Linked DNA regions of Homo sapiens. The protein of the gene in region 1 interacts with the protein of each later gene in a pairwise test. Each region holds a gene or a part of one and is shown on either strand. Other genes may lie near its edges. The genes, in order: ZNF707 and RALBP1.

Evidence for each region.
Region 2: the proteins of ZNF707 (region 1) and RALBP1 interact in binary tests that used the Homo sapiens proteins (3 or more experiments, as listed by UniProt).

What each region holds. Positions count from the first base shown.
Region 1 is NC_000008.11:143,684,353-143,699,666, reverse strand, and holds ZNF707 (zinc finger protein 707), read right to left. Parts: upstream 15,189-15,314; 5' UTR 15,125-15,188; intron 12,751-15,124; exon of another isoform or gene 12,653-12,750; intron 12,287-12,652; exon of another isoform or gene 12,189-12,286; intron 11,674-12,188; exon of another isoform or gene 11,600-11,673; intron 11,006-11,599; exon of another isoform or gene 10,464-11,005; 5' UTR 10,366-10,463; intron 9,611-10,365; 5' UTR 9,559-9,610; coding exon 9,544-9,558; intron 8,769-9,543; exon of another isoform or gene 8,595-8,768; coding exon 8,468-8,594; exon of another isoform or gene 8,435-8,467; intron 8,071-8,434; exon of another isoform or gene 8,068-8,070; coding exon 7,954-8,067; intron 7,423-7,953; exon of another isoform or gene 7,374-7,422; coding exon of another isoform or gene 7,337-7,373; intron 5,997-7,336; coding exon 5,137-5,996; 3' UTR 4,282-5,136; downstream 1-4,281. UniProt on the Homo sapiens protein: May be involved in transcriptional regulation.
Region 2 is NC_000018.10:9,474,474-9,489,787, reverse strand, and holds the start of RALBP1 (ralA-binding protein 1), read right to left. Parts: upstream 14,276-15,314; 5' UTR 14,097-14,275; intron 14,094-14,096; exon of another isoform or gene 13,502-14,093; intron 11,524-13,501; exon of another isoform or gene 11,266-11,523; intron 1-11,265. UniProt on the Homo sapiens protein: Multifunctional protein that functions as a downstream effector of RALA and RALB. As a GTPase-activating protein/GAP can inactivate CDC42 and RAC1 by stimulating their GTPase activity.

The DNA.
Region 1 (15,314 bases):
GCATGCGGCTCCAGGGCCGCGGCCAGCCGAGTTGCTGAGTAAACCCCAAGGAAGGTGATGGGCGATGGAGACCGTGTCCTACTGCTCGGCGGCCGCCGTACAGCCCACCACAGCTCCCCGGCTGCTGGATCCACCCGACATCTGTTCAGCAGTGTCCAAATACTGAAATTTTAACTAGTCACTCACTTTCCTTATTCCTTTTCAAATAAATTGTTTCCGCCCTTTCCCCTCTTTGCATGGTGGTTTTGTCATCTCCCACATCCGGAGTTGCAAAAAGGCCCTGAGGTGGCTGGGCACAGTGGCTCATCCCTGTAATTCCAGCACTTTGGGAGGCCGAGACGGGTGGATCACGAGGTCAGGAGTTCAAGACCAGCCTGGCCAAGATGGTGAAACCCCGTCTCTACTGAAAACACAAAAATCAGCTGGGCGTGGTGGCGGGTGCCTGTAATCCCAGCTACTTGGGAGGCTGAGGCAGAGAATTGCTTGAACATGGACATGGTGGTCGTGGTCCCCGGTGGAGACACTGCAGCTGGAGGTGGGGTGAGTGGACTGAGCACCTTTGAAGTAGTGTGATCAGAAGACGAGGCTGGCCGACCCCTCTGTGGAAAGGACACAGCCCTCCAGCTGTGGCAATGGGTGTGCAGGCCACAGGCTCACCTGTCCTAAGGCGGGGCTGCTCTGCCTTTGTTTGGATTGTGTGTGGTATCATGGCTCTCCTGCAGTCAGGCTGCCACACTTCCTAAGTGTGCACGTGTGGGGAGGGGAGGAGTGGGGAGTGTGAGTGATTCTGGGTGCTCAGGTGCATGACAGCTGGTCTCCCCTCATGGAGTTACCACTGTAACCGGACTCCAGGCTTCCACCATCGGCCCTCGAATTTTACATAGGATGGTTGGCCCCGGGAAAAGGAGCCTCTGAAGTTTTAAAATCCAATATGGCTCCAACATTAAGCTCACACTGGGGACCAGCTCAAAACCCACCCATTTCACATTCCCCAAAACGTTTCGTTTGGTGGGCCTGTGATTTAGCTCCCAAGAGGTCACAGATACAAACACAACGAAGCGAGCTATTAGGGCTGGACATGCACTCAGTGACGCAGCTGTCCCTCCACCCTGGCCCGGGTCAGGTTCTGCCAACTCCACACGCACACTCTTCGTTTGAAGGGTCCCAATGGGTTTGAGGACCTGTAAGACTGGTACGCACGGCGGACCCCATGAACACCCAGAACAACAGTGAGTAGAGTTTATGATACGTTGTAACTAGAATGACCCCAAATATCTTTATTTACTTGGCATTGTACTTCCCAAAGAAGAATATTGCAGCCACTGGGCCTCCCTTCAGAGTGCAGAGAGGCAGCTCCAGGAGCTGAGCCTGCTGGGATGCAACTCCTCCTCCTAGCACCATGGACTCCTTCATCTTTCAGTCAAGGCTGCCAGTGGCTACCACGTGGCCCTCCCATTCCTGGAGCTCTCAGCTGCATCCGCCACCTGCTCTCTCGACGGACTTTTTTTTTTTTGAGATGGAGTCTCACTCTGTCGCCCAGGCTGGAGTGCAGTGGCACGATCTTGGCTCACTACAACCTCCGCCTCCCAGGTTCAAGCAATTCTCCTGCCTCAGACTCCTGAGAAGCTGGGATTACAGGCGGCAGCTACCATGCCCTGCTAATCTTGGTGGACTTTACACTGGACACATGTGTGCTGAGCGCTAACACAAAGGCCAGGCAAGTGTCCCCTGGAGACAGAGGGGTGGAAGGCTAGGTCACAGGCATGGCTGTCAACGGACCCTGCTGTGCACCCATTCTGGCCGCGAAGTAGCTTCATGCATTCTCTGCCCAAGATAAATGCAGAGAAAACTCGGCTCTACAGGCTCACAGGGAGTGACGGCTGCTGGCCCCAGGAAGGAAGATGCTCCTTACGGGACACCTGCTGTGAGCCCCTTCTGTCACCCCACCCCCGCCTGGGTGGTGAGGAGGCCAACAGGGCAAGATGCAGAGCCTCCCGGCCCCTCACACCCCCATGGGCTCCTCACCACCATTCTCTCCCCAGGCCTTTTCTGTGGACCTGACCTTCTTCAGCGACCCAGGAGGCAGGAAGGGAAGCCTGAGTGTTAGAAGGAAAGACAACTAAGAGCAGCAGCCTGACCGCAGCTGAGCACGGTCGTGCTCCTCCCTGGGGAAGTGCCAAGGGAGGGACCCCCTGCTCTACCCGGAGCCCTGGAGCCCTGCTAAGCAGGGTGGAAAGCCTGCAGCCCGGGGGGTACCGCGACTGTGGCCCAACCATCCAGTGTGTGAGCCCTGGATGATGAGGCCACCAAGAGCAAGGCAGCCCGCTTGGACAACTGACCATCATCTGACGAGGCAGCGCATCACCCACGTCTCTGCTGTTCACATTTAATCCTGCACAAGAGCGTCACAAAGTGACAGCATTGTGAGGGACTAACGACCAGGCACAGGTGACCCTGGACGCGGCCAGTGGCTTCCTGCAGGGCGCTCAAAACCCAAGTCCTTATGATCCGCCGCATCTACTGCCGAGACACCAGCTGCTCCGTCCCCACCTGTGCTCAAGCACCTGAAGGCCCTTCCAACGGCGCCCGCTGGGCAGGGGACAAACCAGACACGAAACACACATGCGCTTTTACCAGCCTGGACTCTGTAAGAGAAAGGCACCCCCATATCCCCCCTGGGGAGATTTCCACTTATCCTGCAGGGCCCTCACTGCCTCACCGGGCTCTGCCAGGGCCTGCCCCGCAGGGGCAAGTGCTTTTCCTACACAGGGTCTGTGGGCCAGGACAGACCCAGAGGAGCTTCTGCTACGGGCTGAATGGTCACTCTGAAATTCCCATGTGGAAGCCCTAGGCCCGACGTGATGGTATGAGGAGGTCTCTGGGAGGTGATTTGGCTTCGATGGGGTGATAGGGGTCATGGGATCCGGGCCCTCACAAGGAAAAGGTGACACCAAAGCCCCTCCTGACATGAGGATGCCTCTGAACCAGGAGGCGCTCGCCGGAAACGGACCCTGTTGGCACCTCTACCTCGGACTTCCAGCCTGCAGAGCTGGAGAGAATAAACCTGTGTTGTCTGTGGGGCTGCCGGTGGTGTCCTGGTAAGGCAGCCCTGTGACTCCATGACCGACAGCTGCTCTCTACAATCTTCCGTGAGCACGAAGAAACTCATACTCATGCTGCAAATAAAAGATTTGGGGAACTTTTAAGCACACCAACCTCCCGGCTTCAACAGCTGTCAACATTCAGCCAATACTGTTGTGTCTTTCTCCTCTTTATTAGAATCGTAAAGTACATCCCAGGCGCCACGTCATTTCCCCACAAAGACGTCCAAATGCATCTGAGTGAGGATTCCTCCGTAACCCTGTGTCACCATCACCGCTAGCAGCCAATTCCGCACCCCCACCCGACTCACGGCCCACCCACCCGACTCACGGCCCACCCACGCAACTCACGGCCCACCACGCAACTCACGGCCACCCACCCGACTCACAGCCCACCCACCCGACTCACGGCCACCCACACGACTCAGTCCATCCACCCGACTCACGGCCCACCCACCCGACTCAGTCCATCCACCCGACTCACGGCCCACCCACCCGACTCAGTCCATCCACCCGACTCACGGCCCACCCACCCGACTCAGTCCATCCACCCGACTCACGGCCCACCCACCCGACTCAGTCCATCCACCCGACTCACGGCCCACCCACCCGACTCAGTCCATCCACCCGACTCACGGCCCACCCACCCGACTCAGTCCATCCACCCGACTCACGGCCCACCCACCCGACTCAGTCCATCCACCCGACTCACGGCCTACCCACCCGACTCACGGCCCGTGCCCACATTTCCATGATTGTCTCAAAAGTGACTTCGCACTCGGTTTGCTCCTACCAGGGTCACACACAGCCCCCTCGGCCTTTCTGCGTGCCCGTCTTCCCACAGAAACGTCGCCGTCTGGTGGCATCTCCAGCCGGATCTGGCTCAGGGCTTCCTCTCGGTGTGTTCAACCTTCTCCTCATCCCCCTATTTCTTGTAAACTCGTTTCTGATTCCAACATTACATATGCATCTGTTGGCTGGAATTTTTTTTTTGAGACGGAGTTTCACTCTTACTGCCCAGGCTGGAGTGCAATGGCGCAACCTTGGCTCACCACAACCTCCACCTCCCGGATTCAAACGATTCTCCTGCCTCAGCCTCCCGAGTAGCTGGGATTTCAGGCGTGAGCCACCACGCCTGGCCTGGCTGCAATTCTTAAAGAAAAACAGGCAAAAGCAAAAATAATTGGCTAACCTGAAACACGGCAGTGTCCCGACCCATTCCCACGGGGGTCTTCCCTTGGGAACACCACTGGCAGATTTTTATTTCTGGCTGGATAAGCAGACACCTTAAGTTTAAAACAAAGAGGTCACCTCTTCCCCCACGAAATGCGATGTGGTGGATATGGCCACCTCACTGCCCTGAGACCCAACTTGATCTCCCAACTCCAGGTGCATGACCCAGGCTCTGACCAACAGAGCTGGGTGGAGGCCGTTCCTGCAGCACTGGGGGTGGCCCTGACCTAACCACCACTCCTAATCCTTGAATGAGGTTCAGTATTACAAAGGCTCTTGTTTCTACGGCCCAGCGCAGAGGCTGCAGGAGGGTCTTTGCCTCTGTGCAATGCTCACAGCTGCCTCGCCCAAGACAGAGACAAGAAGGGAAGCCAGACCGGGCAGCCAGCATGGGGTGCAGAGCCAGGAAGGAAAGGCCCAGCAGACGGCGACTCGGGGCCAGGGTGGAGTCCCTGAGCCAGACGGCTGTGGGCACCAGGCAGGCTTCTCCGCCTCTGAGCCCGGCCTGGCACGTGGCTCCGGGGTCGCGCACACTCTCAGCACATCCCCAGGATGCCCGGCGCCGGGGCGCAGCCCCCGCCATCTCCAGAGCCCCCGCCATCTCCGGCGTACCCATGGCTCTGCTTCTCCCACCTGGCAGTTTTCCCAGTAAACTTCTCGGGGGACTGGGGAGCTCTGAGGACTAAGAAGGCTTCTCTGAATTCAGGTTGATTTTCCAGGCTGAAGAGCAACTTCTCACTGCAGCTCTCCCTCAGGACCCAGTACTCCCGCAGAGGCGCAGCACCCCACTCTTCGGGCGCCCCTACACCTCCCCGTGCCTGTGAGTCCTCTGATGCCGCGTGAAGAACCCCAGGTGACGGAAGCCTTTCCCACAGTGGCCGCACTCGTAGAACCTCTTCGTCAGGTGCAGCCTCCGGTGGATGCTGAAGCCCTTGGGCCACCGGAAGGACTTGCCGCACTCGGCACAGGTGTAGGGCTTCTCCCCGCTGTGGACCCTCTGGTGGTGGCTGAGGTTCTCCTTGGTCCGGAAGGCTTTGCCGCAGTCCGCGCAGTAGAACGGCCGCTCCCCGGTGTGCACCAGCTGGTGTCTGAGAAGGTTGGACTTCTGCTTGAAGGCTTTCCCACAGTCGCCACACGAGTAGGGCCTGTGCTCGGTGTGGACCTTGCGGTGCTGAGCCAGGCGGTCCTTCAGGCTGAACGCCTGCCCGCAGGCCTCGCAGCAGAAGGGCTTCTCGCGCGTGTGGTTCTTCTGGTGGCGCTGCAGGTTTGAAGCCCACCGGAAGGTCTGGCCGCACTCGGGGCACTCGAAGGCCTTGGTTCCCGTGTGCACCGTCTGGTGAGCGAGCAGCCGGCTGTGGCAGCTGAGCGCCTTCCCGCACGTGCCGCAGATGAATGACAGCTCTACTGCGCGCTGCTTCCGGCGCTCTCTGCGGCCCGGCCGCCGCCCACAACGCTGCGTGAGCACCTGACACGGGAAAGCCGTGGGCTTGGCGTCTGTCCTTTCTGGAGCAGCTCTGGGAAGCTGCCCGTCATCCGTGTCCAGCCTGAAGCCCTTCCTAAAGCTGCTTCCTTCCCTGGCTCTTTCTCGCCGCACGTGGGTTTTCTTGTGAGCCCAAGCTGGATGATCACAAGGTCTCTTGGGGTCTGCAGACTTCCTTGCCCCTGTGGAAGGAACAGACACCCTTACACAGAGCCAGTGGCCCACAGCCAGGCAGTGCCTCCAGCAAAGCCCAGAGGAGGCCGGGCGCGGTGGCTCACGCCTGTAATCCCAGCACTTTGGGAGGCCGAGGCGGGTGGATCATGAGGTCAGGAGATCGAGACCATCCTGGCTAACAAGGTGAAACCCCGTCTCTACTAAAAAAAAAAAAATACAAAAAATTAGCCGGGCGCAGTGGCGGGCGCCTGTGGTCCCAGCTACTCGGGAGGCTGAGGCAGGAGAATGGCGTGAACCCGGGAAGCGGAGCTTGCAGTGAGCCGAGATTGCGCCACTGCAGTCCGCAGTCCAGCCTGGGCGACAGAGCGAGACTCCGTCTCAAAAAAAAAAAAAAAGCCCAGAGGACCCTCCTGCTGTGTGCGTGGACTGGCTTCCATTGACTCAGCTCATTCCACATGGTTACGAGTGATCAGGAAAACTCGTTCAAAGAAACACAGATGAGCCACAGGTATCAACAGCGGAAGCCAAGATGAGCTCAGATGCTTCCCCAGCCCCGGTGGTACGCAGGCCACCCGGCACTGCTGACGTGAGGGAGAGCCGACACATGCCTGCCAACCAACAGAAGCAACTGGGCCAAGAGAATGTCCTTTCACCCTGTCCACGCCAGCAGGCCCCACTCATGCGGGTGGAGGTGGTGCTAGGATGTCGTCTAGAAGACGGGTAGCTCCACCTGATTCTCAACCACTCAGCCTCAGAGCCATGGCTCCCTTCAGCCGGGGGCTCCACACACCCGGGGATGCGACACCTCCCCAGCCGGGGGCTCCACACACCCGGGGATGCGACACCTCCCCAGCCGGGGGCTCCACACACCCGGGGATGCGACACCTCCCCAGCCGGGGGCTCCACACACCCGGGGATGCGACACCTCCCCAGCCGGGGGCTCCACACACCCGGGGATCCGACACCTCCCCAGCCGGGGGCTCCACACACCCGGGGATGCGACACCTCCCCAGCCGGGGGCTCCACACACCCGGGGATCCGACACCTCCCCAGCCGGGGGCTCCACACACCCGGGGATCCGACACCTCCCCAGCCGGGGGCTCCACACACCCGGGGATGCAACACCTCCCCAGCCGGGGGCTCCACACACCCGGGGATCCGACACCTCCCCAGCCGGGGGCTCCACACACCCGGGGATCCGACACCTCCCCAGCCGGGGGCTCCACACACCCGGGGATCCGACACCTCCCCAGCCGGGGGCTCCACACACCCGGGGACCTGACACTCCAGAGTCAGGGGCTCCACACACCCAGGGACCTGACACTCCACAGTCGGGGGCTCCACACACCTAGGAACCTGACACTCCACAGTCGGGGACTCCACATACCCGGGGACCTCCCAGGGCTCGTGTTCACATAGCTGCTCCATCCCACTCTGAAAATGTAAGTAAAAAGCAAAACCCTGCTGACAACTGCCCCAAGAGCAACCCTCACCTAATGGAGGGAAGCATGGCCACTGTCCCAGTTTTGCAAACAAGGACGTGGAGCAAACTCCTACCCAGAGCCACATACCTGGAGACCCTCACGTGCAGTCAGTACCAGGCCTGGGACCCCACATGGCCATCACAGGGAGGTCAGACACCCACACCAATGGCCTCCGCCGGACAGCACCTGGGTGGCTAGGTGCAGGCTTCAAGTGTCACTCCAGCCTCAGGCCCCTCCGAGCTGCAGCTGTATGTCATCCTGCAGCACTATGCCTTTCGAGCCCCACCCCCGGCCAGTGTCCATCAGGGCAGGAGCGTGGCTGCCCCTACGTCTCTAATGCCTGTCTAATTTAGAGAGCAGCTGTGTGTCTGCTCTCCCATGGGAAGGACACACCCTTGGTCACTGCAGCGTGCTGAGCACTACCCAGGAGCTGTGGGCCACAGGGACGGGGCCCGCCGAGCCCAGACAGCCCAGCACTCACCTGGCCGGGGTCCCCTCTGCACTGCCTGGAACTCAGGTCTCTCCCGGTCTTCAACCCACGGCTCCTCCCACTGTTCCAGGCGAGAGACGAGGTCTGGTCTGGGGCTGCAAAATCCTTCTCAAAGGAGAGAAAAGTTTCTGTTTTACTTGTACTGAGGACAAAGTGAGGGTCGAGGCTCAGAGCAGTTGTGCATCAGCCTAAGACGCCAGGCCAGCCCTCGGGAGGCCCTGGAGAAGCCACCCCAAAGCAGAGATGACAGGAAGGGAGGGGCCTGGACACCAAGGCCCACGGAAGGCCCTGGCAAGGTCAGAGGAAGGAAGATGAGGCTGCCTCCAGGGAGCCCGAGAGAAACGCTGAGTGGGCCCCTCTGTCTACATAAGCCAATAACTTCTAGCTCCTGAGCCCCCTCAGCTGGGAGGCCCCACTACTGTCCTGGACGAGCTGGGCCCAGAGGCAGCGGCAGAGCTCTCCCAGCACTCACCCTGTGCTCACGCTGCGCTCAGCCCGTGCTCACCCAGAGCAGCCACACTGCTGAAGTTGTCCAGCATCACGTCCCGGTAGAGGGCCCTCTGGCTGGGTTCCAGACACGCCCACTCCTCCCTTGAGAAGTAGATGGCCACGTCCCTGAAGGTCACTGGCTCCTGCAACACACACAGCTCCCGAAGAGGCCATTCCCAAGAAAAAGAAGGCTCAGCCCACAGGTCTGGGTGGGAAGGGGGAATGGGAGTGGCCCTGCGGTGGACTGATTGTTTGTGTCCCCTAAATCCATTCACTGAAGCCCAGAGCCCCGAGTGGCTGTGTCTGGAGATGGGCCTCTGTGGAAGAGATTAAGGTTAAGTGAGGTCAGAAGGGAGGGGCCCTGACCCATGGACCTGGTCCTCACAGGAGACTCCAGAGAGCCCCCCGGCTCCCTCCCCGCACACGCGTGAACACAGCACAATAGTGGCCCCCACCAGAAACCAGATCTGCAGCATCTGATCTTGGACGTCAGCCTTTGGAACAGAGGAAGTGCATGTGTGTAAACCACCCACTGTGTCATGTTTGGTTACGGTAGCTCTAGTGGACTAAGAGAATCTAGTCTACTTTCCTACAACAGCCACTACTCTCCTAGTGTCAATGAATCCAATTTTCTTTTCTTTTTTTTTTTCTTTTTTGAGACGGAGTCTTGCTCTGTCACCAGGCTGGAGTGGTGGCACGATCTTGGCTCACTGCAACCTCCGCCTCCCAGGTTCAAGCAATTCTCCTGCCTCAGCCTCCCGAGTAGCTGGGCCTACAGGTGCGTGCCCAGCTAATTTTTTGTATTTTTAGTAGAGATGGGGTTTCACCGTGTTAGCCAGGATGGTCTTGATCTCCTGACCTCGAGATCCACCTGCCTCAGCCTCCCAAAGTGCTAGGATTACAGGCGTGAGGCATTGCGCCTGGCCCCAATTTTCTTTTTCTTTCCCCACCCCTTAAGAGAGAAGGCAGAAAGGCAGACACGGGCACAGTGCCTGGGAAGCCACTGCCACAGACCCTCCCCGCGTGTGTGCTGGGGTCTCAGGCAGCCAGCAGGGCAGAAGGGAGGCTGCGCTCGGCAGCAGCAGGGCTCACCTGGGCCATGTCCATGGGAACAGCGAGGCCACCCCTCTGGGGAAGCACAGTGCCAAGGAGGGCAGATCTGGGGAGACAAGAAATGTAAGCGGGTATAGCCGGCCTGGGAATGCCCCCCGCACCTGACCCCAGGAGCCCCCCCACTCAGCAAATCACGGGGAATTCAGGAAAAATGAGTGATGCACACACAGGGTCTGCTCTGTAACTACTGACAGCCACCAGGTGTGGGGAAACTTGGCAGTGGTGAGGGGCCAACATATCTTTAAGGGACAGCTGGGTACAGTGTGCCACCTCCACAAACAAGAACTCTGAAATACCAGACAGCAAGCCAGGCCTGTCACCAGAGGAGGACAGGCCAGCCATTGCTGGCTGAAAGCCAACAGCTTAGCTGCAAACACATGACTGGAGAGTCTAACCGCAACTGAGGCAGCGGAGGCTCCTCCTCAGGAGACAGGCGGGCAGCCCGTTCCCACAGCACTGTGCCAGGAGGATGCTCTCGGGTACGCTACAAGGAGGCCACCTCGCAGCCTTCCCCCAAGTGAAAACCTGGTGCAGCCCCGAGAAACCCCAATAATGTTCACTGAGTCTCCAGATCAAGCCACAAGATCCCCTAAACCTTAGGGCCCCAGCCCGCTGAGATCCAGCTTCTACCCCCAGGTCTGTAGAGAACCACCCTGGCATCCCACTGCCCTCCTGCCACAGTGGGTCCTGCCTCCTTCGTGAGTAAAGCTCAGAGCCCCAAGATGCAGAAGAGGCCAGCCCCACAGGCACCCCTGAGAAGAGACAGAACCAGCTGGAGGAAGATAGCCCATGCCTGGTTACCTCGTCAGGGGAGGGGAGGAGATGTCACTCTAGACCCTACAGACATGGAAGTATCCTAAAGGGCCGTCAGGAGCAACTCATGCAAACAGGTTCAGCAACTGAGATGAAACAGACAAACTCGATGAAAAACACAGTATCATGAAACTGACAAAAGAAAGGGAAGCCTTCCATCTGATAAGGCAATTGAAAATGTAACTGGAACCCTTCCCACACAGAAAATACCACACCCAGCTGGATTCCCTGGTAAACTCCACCAAAGCCTACGGAAGCACAGTACTGATCTTAGAAGCTATTTAGTGAACAGAGGAAGAGCAGACGCTATCCAGTCTGTCTTAATGAGGCCAGCAAAACCCAAACCGAAAACCTGACAGAGATATTACAAGGGGCCAAGCACAGTGGCTCACGCCTGTAATCCTAACACCCTAGGAGGCTGAGGCAGGAGGACTGTTCGAGCCCAGCAGTTGCCCAGCCTGTCTCTATAAACAATACAATAATTAGCGGGGCGTGGCAGTGCACATATGCAGTCCCAGCTACTCAGGAGGCTGAGGTGGGGGGACTGCTTGAATATGGGAGGCGGAGGTTGCAGTGAGCTGAGATCATGCCAGTGCACTCCAGCCTGGATGTTAGACTGAGACGCTGTCTGAAAAAAAAAAAAAAAAAAAAAAAGATATTACAAAAAAATTACCTACCAAACTCTCATAAACACAAATTCTCAAAAAATATTAGGAAGCCAAATCCAGCAGTTTATAAAAAGAATTCTCTGTCATGACCAAGTGACATGGACCCTAAGAGTACACAGCTGGTTTGATCCCCATTAACTGCAGTTGGTGCCCAGGAGGCTCCCTCCACCACCTGCACTCAACACTCACTGCATGGGGCGGCTCCCTCGGCGTTCACCCCTGACCCCTCGTCCCTCCCACCTCCAGCACAGCAGGTACACAGACATTCCCTTTCTCCTTCTGACACTCACAGGTGGTTACATTAACTGCTACATGTTTTCATGAATATGCTTTTCAACTTGATATTTTTTTTTCACTCTTTCAACAGCATAGCATCAACTTTAATCACAATGTTAATCCCCAACATTTGCTGTCATTTGAAAATGACATAACTCCATCCTGGCTAACACGGTGAAACCCCATCTCTACTAAAAAACAAAAAATTAGCCGGGCGTGGTGGCACGAGCCTGCAGTCCCAGCTACTCGGGAAGTTGAGGCAGGAGAATGGCACGAACCCGGGAGGCAGAGCTTGCAGTGAGCCGAGATCACGCCACTGTACTCCAGCCTGGGCAACAGAGTGAGACTCCATCTCAAAAAAAAAAAAAAAAAAAAGAAAATGATATAACTAACCAAATTAACAGAATAAAGGAGAAAACCATATAACAGCTATTATCTCAATAGCTGCAGAAAAGGCATTTGTTAAAATTCAACACCTAATCCCAACAAAAACTCTCAGCAAACAAGGAACAGAAGAGAACTTCTTCAACCCGGCAGACCTGCAACCAACATCCTGCTTCATGGGCCACTACGGAGCTCTTTCCCTCTGAGACCAGGAAAAAGCAGGGCTGTCTGCCCACTGCTTCTCTCTGTCACCTTATTGGAGGCCTGAGTCAGTGCAAGGAGGTAGAAAAAACACATAAAGCCATAAGATTACAAAGAAAGAAGTAGGTCGGGCGTGGTGGCTCATGCCTAGAATCCCAGCACTTTGGGAGGCTGAGGCGGGTGGATCACCTGAGGTGGGGAGTTTGAGACCAGTCTGGCCAATATGGCAAAACCCTGTCTCTACTAAAAATACAAAAATTAGCCAGGCATGGTGGCAGGCACCTGTCATCCCAGCTACTTGGGAAGCTGAGGCAGGAGAATCGCTTGAACCCGGGAGGTGGAAGTTGCTGTGAGCCAAGATCGCACCCCTGCAGTCCGGCCTGGGGAACAAGAGCAAAACTCCGTCTTAAAAACAAAAACAAAAACAAACAAACAAAAAACACAAACTGGAGGTAGAGGTTGTAGTGAGCCAAGATTGTGCCACTGCACTCCAGCCTGGGTGACACAGAGAGACCATCTTCACAACATTGGGGTAGACAAACATTTCTTTCATGGATCCCTAAAAGCACTTTTAAAAAATTACAAATTCAGGCCGGATGCAGTGGCTCACGCCTGTAATCCCAGCACTTTGGGAGGCCGAGGTGGGCGGATCACCTGAGGTACGGAGTTTGAGACCAGCCTGGCCAACATGGAGAAACCCCATCTCTACTAAAAATACAAAATTAGCCAGGCGTGGTGGCACTTGCCTGTCATCCCAGCTGCTCAGGAGGCTGGGGCAGGAGATTCACTTGAACCCAGGAGGCAGAAGTTGCGGCGAGCCGATATCGCGCCATTGCACTCCAGCCTGGGCAACAAAAGCAAAGCTCCGTCTCAAAAAAAAAAAAAAATCACAAATTGGATTTATCAGAATTAAAAATTTTTGTTTACCAAGGCAGTTAAGAAAAAAAAAAAAGGAGACGGGGTGCAGTGGCTCACGCCTGTAATCCCAGCACTTTGGGAGGCTAAGGCAGGGGGATTGCTTGAGGCCAGGAGTTTGAGACCAGCCTGGGCAACATAGGGAGACCTCTGTCTCTATTGTTTAAATTTTTTTTTCTAAAAAGAGACACAAAGGTAAGCCACAGACTAAGAGAAAATATTCCCAATACATGTATCTGACAAAGGACTTATATAAAGAATTGTAACTCCTACAAATCAATAAAAAAGAGAAATAAAATTTAAACTGGGCAAAATATTAGAACAGACACTTCAACCAAAGTTATACAACGGTCTATAAAAACATGAAAAGGCACACTGAGCACATGGGTCATGGGTGGTGTTTTCCAATTAGAACACCTTGCTGAGTTCCTCTAGCAAGTAGCAATGACCACAGTGATAAAAATAACAGCTCCCGGCCATTCGCGGTGGTTCACGCCTGTAATCCCAGCACTTGGGGAGGCCGAGGCAGGTGGATCACCTGAGGTCAGAAGTTCGAGACCAGCCTGGCCAACATGGTGAAACCCCATCTCTACTACAAATGCAAAAAATTAGCCAGGCTACTTGGGAGGCTGAAGCAGGAGAACTGCTTGAACCCGGGAGGCGGAGGTTGCAGTGAGCCGAGATTATGCCACTGCACTTCAGCCTGGGAGACAGAGCGAGACGATCTCAAAAAAAACAAAAACAAAAACAAAAAAAAAACACCCTCTCCCCTCAGCTCAACAGCTGTGTTTGCACAACCTGGACTGGGCTTCCCAGCCTGGAAAGCAGAGTCAGGGAGAACCGTGAGATAGGCCAGGAAAGGGGCTAAAGCCAGATTCCTCAAGGCCTCCTGAGCCGTGGTTTCATGTGTAATGCAACAAAGTTTAATACGGGAGAACAGAAGGATATTGTCATAGCTACTTTTTTTCCCCTAGGCAAATTAACACAGGATTTTTTTTTCTCTGAGGCAGGTCCTTGCTCTGTCACCCAGGCTGGAATGCAGTAGTGCAATCACAGCTCACTGCAGCCTCGACCTCCTGGGCTCAAGTGATCCTCCCACCTCAGTCTCCCCAGTAGCTGGGACCAAAAGCGCATGTGCCAACATGCCCTGCAATTGTTTTAAGTTTTTTGCAGAAACGGGGTCTCACTATGTTGCCAAGACTGATCTCAAACTCCTGGCCTCAAGAGATCCTCTGGCCTCAGCCTCCCCAAGTGCTGGGGTTACAGGCGTCAGCCACAGCATCCGGCCTAAGCTACCTTTTTTTTTTTTTTTTTTTTAATAAGATGATGTCTCGCTCTGTCGCCCAGGCTGGAGTGCAGTGGCGCGATCTCTGCTCACTGCAACCTCTGCCTCTTGGGTTCAAACGATTCTCTTGCCTCAGCCTCCCCAGAGTAACTGGGATTACAGGCGTGCACCACCACACCCGGCTAATTTTTGTATTTTTTGTAGAGACAAGGTTTCAACATGCTGACCAAGCTGGTCTAGAACTCCTGGACTCAAGTGATCCACCTGCCTCGGCCTCCCAAGAGCTGAGATTACAGGCGGGAGCCACCTTGCCTGGCTAAGCTACATTTTATAAAAGATCCTCTGTGATGAACAAATGAGAAAGCAGCAAAACAGGATGGGGGTGGGGAGAAGACAGGGAGGCGTTCAGGTGAGAGAGGAAGACGGCCAGGATTGGGACTTACAGGGTGGGAATGGCAAGGAGGCAAATGGTTCAGTTATGGAGCTAACGCACCAGTGACTGTGTGGCTGGGCGTGGGCAGGAAAGGAGAAGAAGCGAATCTCGGGTTTCTGCCTCCTCCCCTTCGCGGTGGAATGCCTGGGAGGACCAGAGGGTGGGGTGTGGAGGTTGCAGGAGCTCAGCCTGGGGCCGGGGAGCTTTGGGTGTTATGAATCAAGTCTAAGCGCTCGGGTCTCATCGGAGCGATAGGGCTGGAGACACAGGTGTGGAAAGTGTCTATGAGGGATAACTAAGGTCACGATCGCGGACGGGGTCGGCCAGGAAGAAACCAGCTTCAAGAGGATACGCAACCGGGTCCTGACAAACCTGCAAGTGTAAGGAGCGAGGAGAGAAGAGGAGGCCGAGCCGGAAGAAGCTGAAGAACAGCCCCCGAATAGCCGAGGGCACGGGCAGCCTCCCCGGTCTGTCCCAGCAGCCGCGACGCTGGGTCTCACAGCCCTGGGGCGGCCGCAGAATTAGAAGGTTTGACAGCCCACGACCCAGGGACGGAGGGGCGGCGGGGGACACGGGCGCACTCACCACAGGGGCGTCCTCCACTAGGATGCTGCATCCACTACGCCGCGCCGGTAGCCCAGACTTTTACAAACTTCCCGAGCGGAAGTTGTTATCCGAAAGCTTCCGGCCCCTCTAGGAGCCCACGTCTCGGTGGTGCGCGCTGGCCTTCCAGGCCGTCCAGGCCGCCCGCCTCGCCCCGCACCGCTTGTGGTTC
Region 2 (15,314 bases), on another chromosome or scaffold:
CTAAGCTTTGTTGAAAAACTTAGAATTTTACCCACTGCTTTTCAATTGTTTGTTACCTCAGTAGTGGTAAGAAAATGGACTTAAGTAAGCTTTTCTTCAGCTTTATATCTGCAATTTCTTTTCTCATAATTTTCTCAAGCAGAAAGTCTAAGTTCTTGATTCATATTCCTATTTTGAAGCCAGGCACAGTGGCTCACGCCTGTAATCCCAGCACTTTGGGAGGCCGAGGCAGGCAGATTGCCTGAGGTCAGGAGTTCAAGACCAGCCTGGCTAACATGGTGAAACCCTGTCTCTCCTAAAAATACAAAAATTAGCCAGGTGTGGTGGTGCATGCCTGTAGTACCAGCTACTCGGGAGGCTGAGGCAGGAGAATTGCTTCAATCCGGGAGGCAGAGGTTGCAGTGAGCCACGATCACACCACTGCATTCCAGCCTGCACGACAGAGCAAGACTCCAGCTCAAACAAAACAAAACAAAAAAACAAAAACAAAACAAATCATATTTCTACTTTGGAAGGAAACATTGAAAATTGCCAATGTCCTACTTCAATTTTTGCATTTTCCTTAAAAATCTTTCTTCTCTCATCTCCCCCTCGATCCTCATTTCTCAATAATAGTTCCTTATTATGTATTTATCTGATGGCACCTATCAATGGCAGATTGTGAAAAGTCAATACATATAAAAAAGCTTACAAAGAAAGTTCTAGTCACACAACAACAGTTTTATAAATGACAAGTATACCTCATTTTTAAACATCGGCAATGGTATAAAGTTTTATTTTCAACCTATCACAATACCTGGTTCTCAATTTTTAGTGCTTCTGAACTAACTTAACCTTCACTTGTTGAGGGACTGCCATGCTTCAATACATGGTGCCAGCTCTAGAAGCAATTCCAAATGACTTCTGCCAGTATTTTTGTTTTCAATAACGTTTTATATAAAAGCTTCATAAAATAATTGTATAAACGTTCAAGGCGATCAGTTTGAAACACTTCCCTCAAATATAAAGAAACAGGCTCAGTGCCTGTTACACAATAGGTGTCAACAAATACTGATTCCCTTCCTGTACATATTACTTCCTCGTGACTGTTTACAATAGAGTATTTACATGTTCACACATACTACTTGCATGTATATAAAACATCTCTGGAAGAATATACAAGGAAATATTAAGTTTTTATCCCTTCAAAGAGATCTCAGCTGAGAAAAGGGTAAAGGGGGAAAGACAATTTAACCTTTATGTGCCATGGGTATTATCTTTTTCAAAATAAACTAAATTTTACATGTTTTTAACTAAAAAGACAATCATATTATTTATATCTCATCCAGCCGCCTATCCATCTGTAAAGAAACTAGGAAATATAGCGATGGAGTCAAAACGTCCAATTTCATCAAAAACTTACACATATGCAAAGAAACAAGAAGGAATGATCCATTAAAAAAAAAAAAAGCAATCACAGAAACTGTTCCAGGCCAGGCACGGTGGCTCACGCCTGTAATCCCAGTACTTTGGAAGGCCAAGATGGGAAAGAAAATTGCTTGAACCCGGGAGGCGGAGGTTGCAGTGAGCCAAGATTGCGCCACTGGATTCCAGCCTGGGCTACAGAGTGAGACTCTGCCTCACAAAAATAGAAAAAAGAAACTGTCCCTAAGGATGCCCAGACACTGACTAGACTGACTACATAAGAACTTTAAATCAGCTATTTTAAGTATGTTCTAAAGCTAAAGGAAACCATGTCTTAAAAACTGAAGGAAAGCAAGATAACTCTGTTTCACCAAAAAGAGAGTATTGATAAAGAGAATTTTTTAAAAAATCTAATAGAAATTATAGAATTGAAAAGTATAATAACTTAGATGAAAAGTTCACTAGAAGGGCTCAACAGCTTATTTGGGCAGGCAGAACAAAGAAACAGTGAACATGAAGATAGGTTAATTGAAATAGGTCAGTCTGAGGATCAGGAAAAAAAAAGAAAGAATACAGAATCCCTTAAAACAGAACATAAGAGATATACGGGAGGCTGAGGCAGGCAGATCACTTGAGCCCAGAAGTTCGAGACCAGCCTCAGCAACATGGCAAAATCCCATCTCTACAAAAAATACAAAAAAAGAAAAAAAAAAACAGCTGGGTGTGGTGGTGCACACCTGTGGTCCCAGCTACTCAGAAGGATGAAGTGGGAAGATCACTTAAGCCCATGAAGTGGAGGTTGCAGTGAGCTGAGATCACGCCACTGCACTCCAGCCTGGGCAACAGAGCGATGAGACTCTGTCTCAAAAAAAAAAAAGAAAAAGAAAAGATATTCCTAGATTAAGAAAAACTAAGAGAACTCACTGCTAGTAGACCTATCCTGTTAAAAAAAATACGCTAAAGGGAGTCCATCATGCTGCTTTGAAAAAACACTAACTAGACGATACTCAAATCCACATGAATAAAGAACACTGGTAAAGGTAATTACAGTCGGGCATGATGGCTCATGCCTATAATCCCAACAGTTTCAGAGGCCAAAGTGGATCACTTGAGCCCAGAAGGTCAAGGCTGCAGTGAGCCAGGATCATGCCACTGCACTCCAGTGTGGGCAAGACAGCAAGACCTTGTCGCAAAAAAAAAAAAAAAAAAAAGTATGTAGGTAAATATTAAAAAGAGTATAAATGTATTTTTGTTTGTATTTCTTCTTTCTCCTATCTGAGTTAAATAACTGCATAAAGCAATCACTGTAAATCAGTGTTGATGAGCATACAATGTATAAAGATGTAATTGTGACAATAACAGCATAAAGGGGGTAGGACTACATAGGAGTAAAGTTTTCTACACTATTAAAATTAAGTTGATATTAATCTGAACTAGATTGTTACAAATTAAGATGTTAATTGTAATCCCAGGTCAACTACTACGAAAATATATAACAAATGAAACATAAAGGAATTAAAATGGTACAATGAAAAGTATGTATTTAACACAAAAGGAGGCAGCAATGGAAGAATTGAGGAACAAAAAAGATGTATCAAAAACAAATAGCAATATGGCAGAAGTTCTTTCTTATCAGTAATATGTAAATAAATCAAACTCCTCAATTAAAAGATAGTTATTGGCAGACAGATTTAAAAAACAACAAGATGCAATCGTAGCCTGTCTACAGAGACTCACTTTAGATTCAAAGACAGAAATAAGCTGAAAGTAAAAAGATAGAAAAAGATATTCCAGGCTGGGCACAGTAGCTCACACCTGTAATCCCAGCACTTTGGGAGGCCAAGGTGGGTGGATTACAAGGTCAAGAGATGGAGACCATCCTGGCCAACATGGTGAAACCCTGTCTCTACTAAAAATACAAAAATTAGCCAGGCGTGGTGGCGCGAGCCTGTACTCCCAGCTATTCAGGAGACTGAGGCAGGAAAATTGCTTGCACCCGGGAGGCGGAGATTGCACTGAGCCAAGATCGTGCTACTACTGCACTCCAGCCTGGTGACAGAGCGAGACGAGGAAGGGAGGAAGGGAGGAAGGAAGGGAGGGAGGGAGGGAGGGAGGGAGGGAGGAAGGAAGGAAGGAAGGAAGGAAGGAAGGAAGGAAGGAAGGAAGGAAGGAAGAGAAAGAAAGAAAAAGAGATTTCATGCAAACAGTAACCAAAAGGGAACTAGAAAGTCTATGTTAGGCCGGGTGCGGTGGCTCATGTCTGTAATCCCAGCACTTTGGGAGACTGAGGCGGGTGGATCACCTGAGTTCAGGAGTTGGAGACCAGCCTGGCCAACACGGCAAAACTCTGTCTCTACTAAAAATACAAAAATCAGCCGGGCATGGTGGTACATGCCTGTAGTCCCAGCTACTACGGGGGCTGAAGCTGGAGGATCGCTTGAACCTGGGAGACAGAGGTTGCAGTGAGCCGAGATCGTGCCACTGCACTCCAGCCTGGGCAACAGAGCAAGACTCTGTCTCAAAAAAAATAAAAATAAAAGAAAGTCTATGCTAATACCAAACAATGAAGACTATCTCTTAAATATCATATAATGATAAATGGGTAAATCCATCAACAAGATACAACAATTGTAAACATACACTGCACATAACAACAGAGCCTCCAAAAGATACAAAACAAAAACTGACAGAAGTGAGAGGCGAAGAGGCAGTTCAATGATAAACGGAGACTCCCAATACTTCACTTTCAATAATGGATAGACTAGAGAAAAGATCAACAATGAAAAAGAAGACTTGAACAACACTATAAAGCAACTAGATCTATCAGACATCTATAGAACACCCCACCCAAAGACAATGTAATACGAATCCATCTCAAGTGCACATGGAACAGTCTCAGGACAGATCATATGTTAGGCAATAAAAGATGCCTCAATAAACTTTAAAAGACTAAAATCATACAAAGTATGTTCTCTGATCACAATGAAATGAAACTGAAAATCGATAACAGACAAAATGTTGAAAACTTCAAAAATATGTAGATAATTAAGCAACACACTTGACAAACACTCAACAAAGTACTCAACAAACTGGGAACATAAGGAACATCCTTAAACTGATACAGTGTATCAATGAAAAACCCACAGTTGCCAGGCATGGTGGCTCATGCCTATAATCCCAGCATTTTGAGAGGCTGAAGCAGAAGCTTGAGCCCAGGAGCTCCAGACCAGCCTGGGCAACATAGGGAGACCCTGTCTCTACAAAGCATACAAAAATTAGCCAGGCATAGTGGCTCATGCCTGTAGACCCAGCTACTCAGGAGGCTGAAGTGGGAGTATCACGTGAGCCTGGGAGGTCAAGGCTGCAGTGAGCCATGATTGTACCACTGCACTCCAGCCTGGGTGACAGAATGAGACCGTGTCTCAAAAAAAATAAGAAAAGAAAGAAAAACCCACAGTTAACATTATACTAAATGGTAAAAGACTGGAAGCTTTCCTCCTAAGATAAGGAACAAGACAGGGAAGTCTGTTATTGCCACTTTCATTTAGCATTGTATGGGAAGTTCTAGCCTGGGCAATTAGGAATGAAAAATAAATAAATAAAAGATACCCATATAGGAAAAGAAGAGGTAAAACTATCTCTGTTTACAGACAGCATGATCTTATATACAAAACTCAAAAGAATACACTAGAAAACTATGGGAACTAATAAGGAGTTCAGCAAAGTCACACGATATAAGGTGACAGAAAATAAGTTGTATATCTAAACACTAGGCAATTGTGAAAAACAATTGTGAAAAACAAATTGAAAAACAAATTTAAAAAACAATTTCATTTGCAACAGCACCTAAAAAAAAAATAGAAATAAATTTAACCAGGGAAGTGAAAGACTTGACACTGATAACTACAAATATTGTGCAAGAAATTAAAGACAAACTAAATAAGTGAAAAGACATCCTATTGTTAATGGATTGGAGGACTTAATATTTTTAAAACAGAAATACTACCCAAAATGTTTTACAAATTCAATGCAATCTCTATTAAAATTCCAATGGCCTTTTTTACAGAAATGGATCCTCAGTTTCATATGGAATTGCAAGGGACCCTGAAGAGCCAACAAATACTGGAAACAGCAAAGTCGAAGAATTCACACATCTCAATTTCAAAATGTACTACAAAGCCACAGTAATCAAAACAGCACATGGTACCTGGCATAAGGATAGCTATATCAACCATGAGAATCAAACAAAGAGTCCAGGGGAAAAAACCCAGACATTTGTGGTCAACTGATTTTTCAACAAGGATATCAGGACCACTCAATCAGGAAATAATGGTCTCTTCAACACATGAGGATGGGACAACTAGAGTACCACATGCAAAAAAGTGGACCCCCTCTGGCAGGGCGCAGTGGCTCACGCCTGTAATCCCAGCACTTTGGGAGGCCAAGGTGGGTGGATCACTTGAGGCCAGGAGTTTGAGGCCAGCCTGGCCAATGTGGTGAAACCCCATCTCTAGTAAAAATACAAAAATTGGCCGGGCGTGGTAGCGCTCGCCTGTAATCCCAGCTACTCGGGAGGCCAAAGCATGAGAATTGCTTGAACCTGGGAGGCAGAGATTGCAGTAACCTGAGATTGTGCCACTGCATTCCAGCCTGAGCGACAGAGTGAGACTCTGTCTCAAAAACAAAACAAAACAAAAAAACGTGGACCCCTATCTCACACCATATAAAAATGTGGACCAACAACTGAATATAAGAACTAAAACCACAGAACTCTTAGAAGAAAGTATGGAATAAATCTTCATTCCTTGGATTTGGCAATGTAGACATGACACCAAAAGCCTGTGTAACAAACAAACAAAAAAAAACAGATAAATTATACTGTAAAATTTAAACTTTTAATGCATCAAAAGTATATTATCAAGAAAGTGAAAAGACAACCCAGAAAACAGAAGTATTTGTAAATCATATATCTGATAAACATTTAGTAACCAAACATACAAAGAACTCTTTCAATAACCAACAATACAATTCAAAAATGGACAAAGGATTTCAGTAGATATTTCCACAAAGAGAATATACAAATGGCCAATGAGCACATGAAAAGATGTTCAACATCTTAGCCACCAGGGAAATGAAAATCTAACCCTCAACATGATACCACTTCACCCCAAGATAGCTAAAATTTAAAAAAGCAAATGGCAAGTATTGGCAAAGATGTAGAGAAATTGGAGAATTGGATTATAAAATGGTGCAGTCGCTTTGGGAAACAATTTGGCAGTTCCTCAAACTGTTCAACAAGAGTTACCACATGAGCTGTTTTCTAACAACACTTCTGACACCACATGTGGAAGTGTTTTTCCATACCAATACAGTTCTCCAACTTTCCAGACACCAACTGAGTGCCCTATAATTCAATTCTGACACTAACTGCCCAGAGTTTATGTCAGACTCCACAGGCTTAGTTCCACAAGACTACCCTCACTTCAGTTACCAGCCACAAGCTGCACATTGCCACCTGTACTTCTGACCAAATAGCTATAAATAGGGGTTCCCACAACCCCCTCCTCATGTTCAATAATTTGCAAGAATGGCTCACCGAAACTCAGGGAAACACTTTACTTATGCCTATCAGTTTATTATAAAGGATATAAATAAACCACCAAATCAAAAGGCACAAGGGTGAGGCCGAGATGGGTTCCAAGTATAGGAGTTTCTGTCCCATGAAGTTGAAGCAACACCTTCCCAGCATAAGGATGCATTCACCAACCCAGAATCTCTCTGAAAACCACTGTTTAGAAGATTTTATGGAGGTCCCATTTCACAGGCATGATTGATTACATCACTGGCCACTGATAACTGATCTCAATACCCAGTCCTCACCACCACCCCCTCACCCATCCAGGGGTGGGGCTGCAAGTTCCAACTCTCTAATCAACACAGTTGGTTCTTCTGGCAACCAGCTTCCATCCTGAAGTTGTCTAGGGGCCTACCAAGAATCACTTTATTAGCATAAATTCAGATGTGACTGAGAGACTTATTATGAATTCCAAAATATGCTCTATTACCTCTATTACTCAGGGAGTTCCAAGGATCTTTGAAGTTCTAGGCTAGGAACCAGACCAAGACCAAATATATATTTCTTATTGTATAACATCACACCCAGCAATTCTACTCCTAGGTATATACACAAGAAATGAAAACGTATGCCCGCACAAAAACTTGTACATGAATATTCACACCAGCATTATTCAGAATAGTCAAGAAGGAGAAACGACTTAGATGTTCAACTGATAAATGGATAAATGAAATGTGGTATATCCAGATAAGAGAGTACTGTTTTGCAATAAAAAATATGAAGTGCTAATATATCCTACAATATGGATGAACCCTGAAAACATTAAGTGAGGGAAAGCAGTTGCAAAAGATGATATATATGGTTTCATTTATATGAAATATCCAGAATATCTGAAATATCAAGAGATACAGAAGTAGATTAATGAGGGCAGGGGAAATAGTGAGTGACTACTGCTAATGGGGAGGTTTTTTTGGGGGAGTAATGAAAATGTTCTAAAATTGACTGTGGTGATGGCTGTACAACTCTGTATATACAGACTGTCCCCAACATACAATGTTTCAACTTGGGATTTTTCAACTTTACATGGTATCCATAAAATCATTCTGTTTTTCACTTTCAGTATGCAATAAATTACATGAGATATTCCACACTTTATTATAAAATAAACTTTGTGTTAGAGGATTTTGTAGGCTAATGTAAGTGTTCTGAGCATGTTTACAGTAGGCGAGGCTAAGCTATGATGTTAGGTGCATTAAATGCATTTTCCACTTACAATATTTTCGAATTGCTATAGGTTTATCAGGATGTAACTGTGTCGTAAGTAGAGAAAAGTAGAGAAGCATCTGTACTAAAAACCAATGAGACTGCGCGTGGTGGCTCATTGAGCCCAGCACTTTGGGAAGCCGAGAGAGGTGGATCACTTGAGCCCAGGAGTTTGAGACCAGCCTGGGCAATATGGCAAAACCCCGTCTCCACAAAAAAAATACAAAAAATTAGCCAGGCATAGTGGCACACACCCGTAGTCTCAGCTACTCAGGAGGCTGAAGTCGGAGGATCATCTATCTGAGCCTGGGAAGTCAAGCTGCAATAAGCTGTGGCTGCACCACTGCACTCCAGCATGGGTGACAGAGTGTGACTCTGTCTCAAAAAAAAAAAAAAAAAATTAAGTCACACAGACCAATGAATAACTACATGCTACATACCAATGAATTGTATAATTTAAAGGAGTGAATTTTATGGATACGTGAATTATATTTCAATAAAGCTGTTTTAAAAAAGAAAAGCAGGTTCAAGTCTTTGCCATGTTAAAAATCTGTTAACCCTTTATCACCCTCTGCTACCACCTCTTTCTATTCTCCCCTTCATGGCTAAAATTGATTTATTTATTATAATCTACATATGCTTTTCCACTCTCTAACCTCAACTCCTCAACTCAATGAAACCTACCTCGTCCCCCAACCATTCTATCAAAACTGTTCTCACACAGTTATCAAATTGAATAACCTCCTCAATACCAAATCAATAGACTCTTAATAACTTCTTTCGCTCAACTTTTCAAAGCATTTAAAGTATGGCTTTCCTTTTGTTTAGGCCAGGGTCCCACTCTGTCACCCATGCTGCAATGCAGTGGCACAATCACAGCTCACTGCAGCCGCAACCTCCCAGGATCAAGCGATCATCCCACCTCAGCCTCCTGAGTAGCTGGGACCACAGGTGTGCACCACCACAGCCAGCTAATTGCTTTTTTTTTGCAGAGACACCAGTCTCCCTATGTTTCCCAGGCTGGTCTCAAACTCTTTGGCTCAAGCAATCCTCCCACCTCAGCTTCCCAAAGTGCTGGGAGGACAGGTGTGAGCCACTGTGCCTGAGGCTTTCCTTTTTTAAAAAAAAAAATTAATTTCTATTTTTTCTTGAGAGTTGATTGTGAAGTATAACTTCCTTTAAAAATGATCCCAGCCCAATGCAGTGGCTCACACCTGTAATCCTAGCACTTGAGAGGCCAAGGCAGGCAGATCGCTTGAGCCCAGGAGTTCAAGACCAGCCTGGGCAACATGGCAAAACCCCATCCCTACCAAAAATACAAAAATTAGCCAGGTGTGGTGGTATGTGTCTGCAGTCCCAGCTACTTGAGTGGCTGAGGTAGGAGGATGGCTTGAGCCCAGGAGGCGGAGGTTGTAGTGAGCTGTGATGGTGCCAGATCCCACTTTGGCTTCTATGACATTTTCTCATGATTTCTCTACATCTCCAAACACTTAGGAATTTCCTTTCCCAGCTCTTCTTCTATCTGGCTTTAAATGTTCTCCACAGCCTATTTCCAGAACTATTTTATGTTAACAAACTCTTCTTATTTGGTGTTATCTAAATCAAAGAATTCAGATACCACTCATAATATAGCCTGTTATACTGTACTCCAAATCCACATTCACAGTTCCATAGCAGATGATTCCACCTGGATGTTTCACAGATAACTTCCACTCAATATGTTCTGAAGCTAAAATACTGTTTCTCCTCAAATGTGCTTCTCTTCCTGAATTCCCCATCTCAGTATATTTTACCATTGTCTCTTCAATCACCCAAGTTAAAATCCAAGTCATCTTATTCTATTATTTTTCCCTCACTCCCCATATCCAATTGTTGCTGAATCCTATGAATTCTACTTTCTAAATATTTCTATTACCCTCCTCCTCCATAACCCCTCTAACATTGCCTTAGTTTGGACCCTTATTTCTCACTTCGATTAGTGCAAAAACCTCCTAAACAGTCTTTCTACATCCATTCTTACCTTCTCTCCATCCCTTCTGAAATCCTTACTCTACAATTCCAGAATGATCTTTCTAAAATAAAAATCTTGGCCGGACATGGTGGCTTACACGTGTAATCCCAGCACTTTAGGAGGCCGAGGAGGGTGGACTGCCTGAGCTCAAAGTTTAAGACCAGCCTGGGCAACACAGCAAAACTCCATCTCTACAAAAAAAAAAATACCAAAAAATTAGCCAGGTGTGGTGGCGTTCACCTGTGGTCCCAGCTACTCGTGAGGCTGAGGTGGGAGGATCGCTGGAGCCTGGGAGGTCGAGGCTGCAGTGAGCCATGACGGAGTGCGGTGAGTGCCACTTCATTTCAGCCTGGGTGACACAGTGAGACCTTATCTCAAAAAAGTAAAAAAAAAATAAAAAGAAAAATCTTATCATGTCTCTCTGTTCATTAAAATACATAAACCCTATTGTTATCTACAGGAAAAAATGGTAAGGTCCTTGGAATGGCACGCAATACTTTTGAGGATACCTGCAACCTCATCTTCTGCTACTTATCACCACAACTAATGCTACAGCTACAGAAAACAACTTCCCATTCTCTTCCATATTCTGTGCTGACTGCACCCCTGGCCCGCGCGTGCCTTTCCGCCTGCCGCGCCCCAGGACACCCCAGCTCTGGGCGCCACCAGGGAGCTGCTCGCCCTGACCAAGGCCGGCGGCAAACCCTTCTGCGCCTGAGGCAGGCTGGCCTCTAGCTCGGTAGGAAACCCGCGCTCAGGCGGACAGCGCCGACTCTTTTTACTGAGTTTCCAGAGGAAGACTAGCCCAGCTACCGCGAAGCTGCCAATCCACCGGAGAGGGGGCTTCTGAACCCGGACTCCTGGGAACGTCGACAAGCACGGCACTACTACACCGAGGCCTCCACCGCCTGGGCCTGAGCACGGCCGGGCCATTCCCAAACTCGGGACGCAGGAGAGGATCTCGGAGAAGAAGAGGCCACCCTGAAGCACACAGTTTACGTCAAAAGTTTACATGGAGAAGGCGGTTCCGTTCTGAAGCGCGGTCTGCTGTCCTTTTGGGCGCGAGGCATGTGGTGTTCGCTGTGAAGCCTCCTGGGCCTGTTGGTCCTCCGATTTCATCCTCGGGACATAATGCTTACCAACAGTACTTGCACTGAGTTGACACTCGTGCACTCTTGACTCCAGATGTTTTTCAAAATGTATGTTCACACCAATAATTGCCTACTTCAGAGGCTAATAAGACAAAACCAATAAAACTGAGTGATGGTGTCTGTATTGGGAAAAAAAAAAGTGTTCCATGTTCTTTCTCACCTACGTTTCTGCCCACCTTTCCCTCTAAAAGTTCCTTCCCCATCCCTGCCCTAGCCCCCCAATTTCTGCATTAGTCATGACTAAGCCTTCTTTAAGCTTAAGGACATAAAATATACAGTACCTAATACAGTGCCTGACCTATAGCAGAGGGTTAAAAATGGGCTGAGCTGGCTTAGGTCTCTTCTTTGTCCTCTCAATGACTCCTATTTGCTTATAAAATAAAATTGTAATTATTCTGATGGTCTGCAAGATCCATAATTTGGTCTCTGCCTATCTCCCCAGTTTCAGGTCTTGCCACCACCCTGTATTATACTTGCTATTTTTGCAGATGCTACTCTCTAATTTTAGACTCCCATGCTTTTTCTCACACTGCTCCTTCTACCTAAATGCCCATTCTTTCTATGCCTGTACACTCCTGATTTTCATCACCTTCTACATAGTTTTTCCTTACAGTTTCCCTCTTCTTCAGCTCTTTTCTTCACTTTAAGAAACTGACCACTATCTCCTTTGTACATCCACTGTACCCGCATATGTTCTTCAATCAAAACAATCTTGTACTTGTTGACAGTTAAAGTAAGAGATAAGGTTCAACTACCCTGAAGGCAGGAACACTGCCTTCTGTATCTTTAAGTCCTCTTCACCTGGTCACAGTACTTTCTACATAGTAATTCCTGTATTCTAAATAATCTGCATTTTTCCTTGTACCCTCTTATACAAACTAACATAAGTTTCTATCAGGGATCTTTCAAAACAGAAACAATATTCTTTTGGGTTACATGCTGGGCCCGATCTCTTCTTGCCAAGCAAACAACTATGCAAATATAACTGTACAAATTAAAGTTATTATGCACTTTCTGATACCACTTTCCTATTCTAAATTAGGGGAGAAATAGTCTGGATAAGATCCATAATTAGAAACAATATCCTGAAGAGAAAGCAAACTAAGTTGTATTACATTGTTTCGAGATACCTTGTTTAAAGAGTCACTTCTCAAAAGCTACTACTGTTGGCAGGGCGCGGTGGCACACGCCTGTAATCCCAGCGCTTTGGGAGGCCTAGGCGGGCAGATCACCTGAGGTCGGGAGTTCAAGACCAGCCTGACCAACATGGAGAAAATGTCTCTACTAAAAATATAAAATTAGCCGGGCGTGATGGCGCATGCCTGTAATCCCCTCAGGAGGCTGAGGCAGCAGAATCGTTTGAACCCAGGAGGCAGAGGCTGTGGTGAGCTGAGATCATGCCATTGCACTCCAACCTGGGCAACAAGAGCGAAACTCTGTCTCAAAAAATAAAAAACTAAAAAAAAAAAAAAAAAGCTACTGTTAACTAACCTACCCCACTTGGATCTACCAGATACTTTGAATGAGAGGTGGAAACCACTCTACTGACCTCCTTCCTACCCCTACTACCGCCACTCCAGCTTACAGTAATTATTTTCACAAAGACAGAAAGGAGTTATCAAATGACCACAATAACTCTAAAAACAGAAAGTGAGGTGATCTTTCTTATTCACAGTCCCACTTATTCATTTAGAAATGCTGAGCACCAAAACAAAACCTTATCACAAGTTCAGTATTTCGTTAATAACTGCCAAGTATAATGGAATACTCCCCAAAGTACTGCAGCATTAGAACATGACCACTCCACTAAATTAAAAATTCAGCGAAAGCTTTTCTAACAAGGCTGGATGGAGCACTAACTCAACGGCCAAACGGCTGCACTTCCTGTATATGCACGTTCAAAACACCTCGAATTAACATGCTAGGGACCTTGAAGAATTGTACTAGGCCTTGCTCAAGAGGAAGGCTTTGTAATACTGAATCCCAAAACTTGAAACAGCAGAATTACTTCAGGGAAGACGGAGGTGTTAAATATTCTGTAAAACCTGTTTCACTCTCACAACGATCAGTTTTAAAAAAAAGAGGGAGAACACTGACCTCATTAAGAGCATTCTGACAACACACATAGTTGAACATGAGTTGTGAAAAGAATTTTCAACTTCAGATCTGTCTGTCCATTCCCACTGAAACCTGAAGGAAGGATCGCAGCACCCAAAGGCGCCCACTGCTCAGTGCCAGCGGTGGGCGACACCAGGAGCCTGTCCTGGTCCCCTGGGTAAGCCCTGGAGCCTGGCCACTATGCCGGGCACGATCCACCAACCGTGAGGGCTGGGTCCCCTAGCCTCTGTCCAGGCGCCCCCCAAGAGCTTCCCCGAGGCCTGGGGACTCCTAACTCTCCACCCCCGGCCCCCGAGAGCACCACAAACGAGGACGCCACGAAGGGAGGCCCGTCGGCCAGTGGGAGGGACGCACGGCCAAGGGGGGCGAAAACTGGGGCGAAGCTTTCCGGGGAGGAACCCACGCCAGGGGCAGCCACGCCCCCCACCCCCAACTTCAAACCCGAGCGCTGCGAGCACCGAGCCCCACACGCTGCCTGACAGACGCGGGCGCGAGGCCGGCGCGGGAGAGGGTTCCTCGGGCACTCCAGGGGTATCGCCGCGACCCTAGCACGCGACCGCTCCCTGCGACTGACCTGTGCCTGCCGCCGCGCGACCGTCCGCCCCGCCGCAGCCTCCGCCTCCTCGCGCTCACGCTGCCGCCGCAGCCACCGGAGCCGCCTCCTGCGCTGCGCCCCAGGCCGGCCTCGGGCGCCCCATTCCCACCCCGCCCAGCCTCTGCCTGTTTACAATGATTGGGACGGAACGGGACGAGGCGGTCCAGCGCGCACGCGCATTCCCTCCTCCCGCCGCAGCCGGCTTCCCGGATCCTCCTCTCCGCTCAGACGGCTGAAGCCGTCAAGGGCAGGCGACCTGGGCTCTCGCGCGGGGCGCGCTGGGAGGCGTAGTTCCCAAGGCCCCGGCGTCCAGCCAGCCCGAAGGCCTCTCGCCAAGGAAGCAAACTACAACACCCAGGAGGCACCGCGCCCCCTTCGTCCCCAGGCTCGCTGAGGAGACTGAAGAAGAGCGCGAGAGAACGCGCCGAGGGCCAGTGCTCTGCAGGCGCCTGCGCAGTCGGTGGCCTTGCGGGTTTCGGGGACGGACGGCTTACCCCGGTGTGGTGCTGGCGAAGGTGGCTCGCGGGCATCTCCTGCAACGGCCTTGAGGATGGAAAGGGCTTTCCTCTCCACGCTCTGGCCAGCCTGCGCCTCAGCTCCCGAAGTTGAGAGCTTTCCTTGCGCCAGCGTGCTTTAGTCGTTCCAACCAGTTAAACCAGACTGGGGGCCGCCCGGCTGGCCGCTGGGTGGGGCGGCTGCCCCGCCTTCGACTGGGTGTGGGATTGGAGGAAAGAGCGCCGTGGGCCTGTAGGGATAGGCGGGAATAAACCTCTGTCGGGAACATCCACGGAATTCCTGAAGCGGGTGTGGGCTTCTGCAGGGCTTCAGCGCGCCCCCGGCTCAGCAGTTACCGAGCAGCCCCCGAGGAAAGCTGCCCAGTCCGTGTTTGGCTGGCAGTAGAGATAACTGAATTTCTTCGAGAAGCCTTTCACCCAGGCTTGTTGAGTTGCTCTGCTAATGCGTAGCGAAGGCTGGAAACGGCTTCAGCAGTCTTCGTGTTTTCTGAAATGTGGCAGTTTATTAGGGGAGAGGAGGGACTTGGAATAGACGACCCTACCTGTCACTCGCATTCCTACGTGCAGCACTCTGTGGCACTTCGTTGCCCGTTTAGATTGGCCGCTGCTATCCATCTTGCTCTCTGCTCCCACATCAGCTTTCCTCAAAGCGGGCGGTAAATTTGTCCCTAGTACTCTGCGC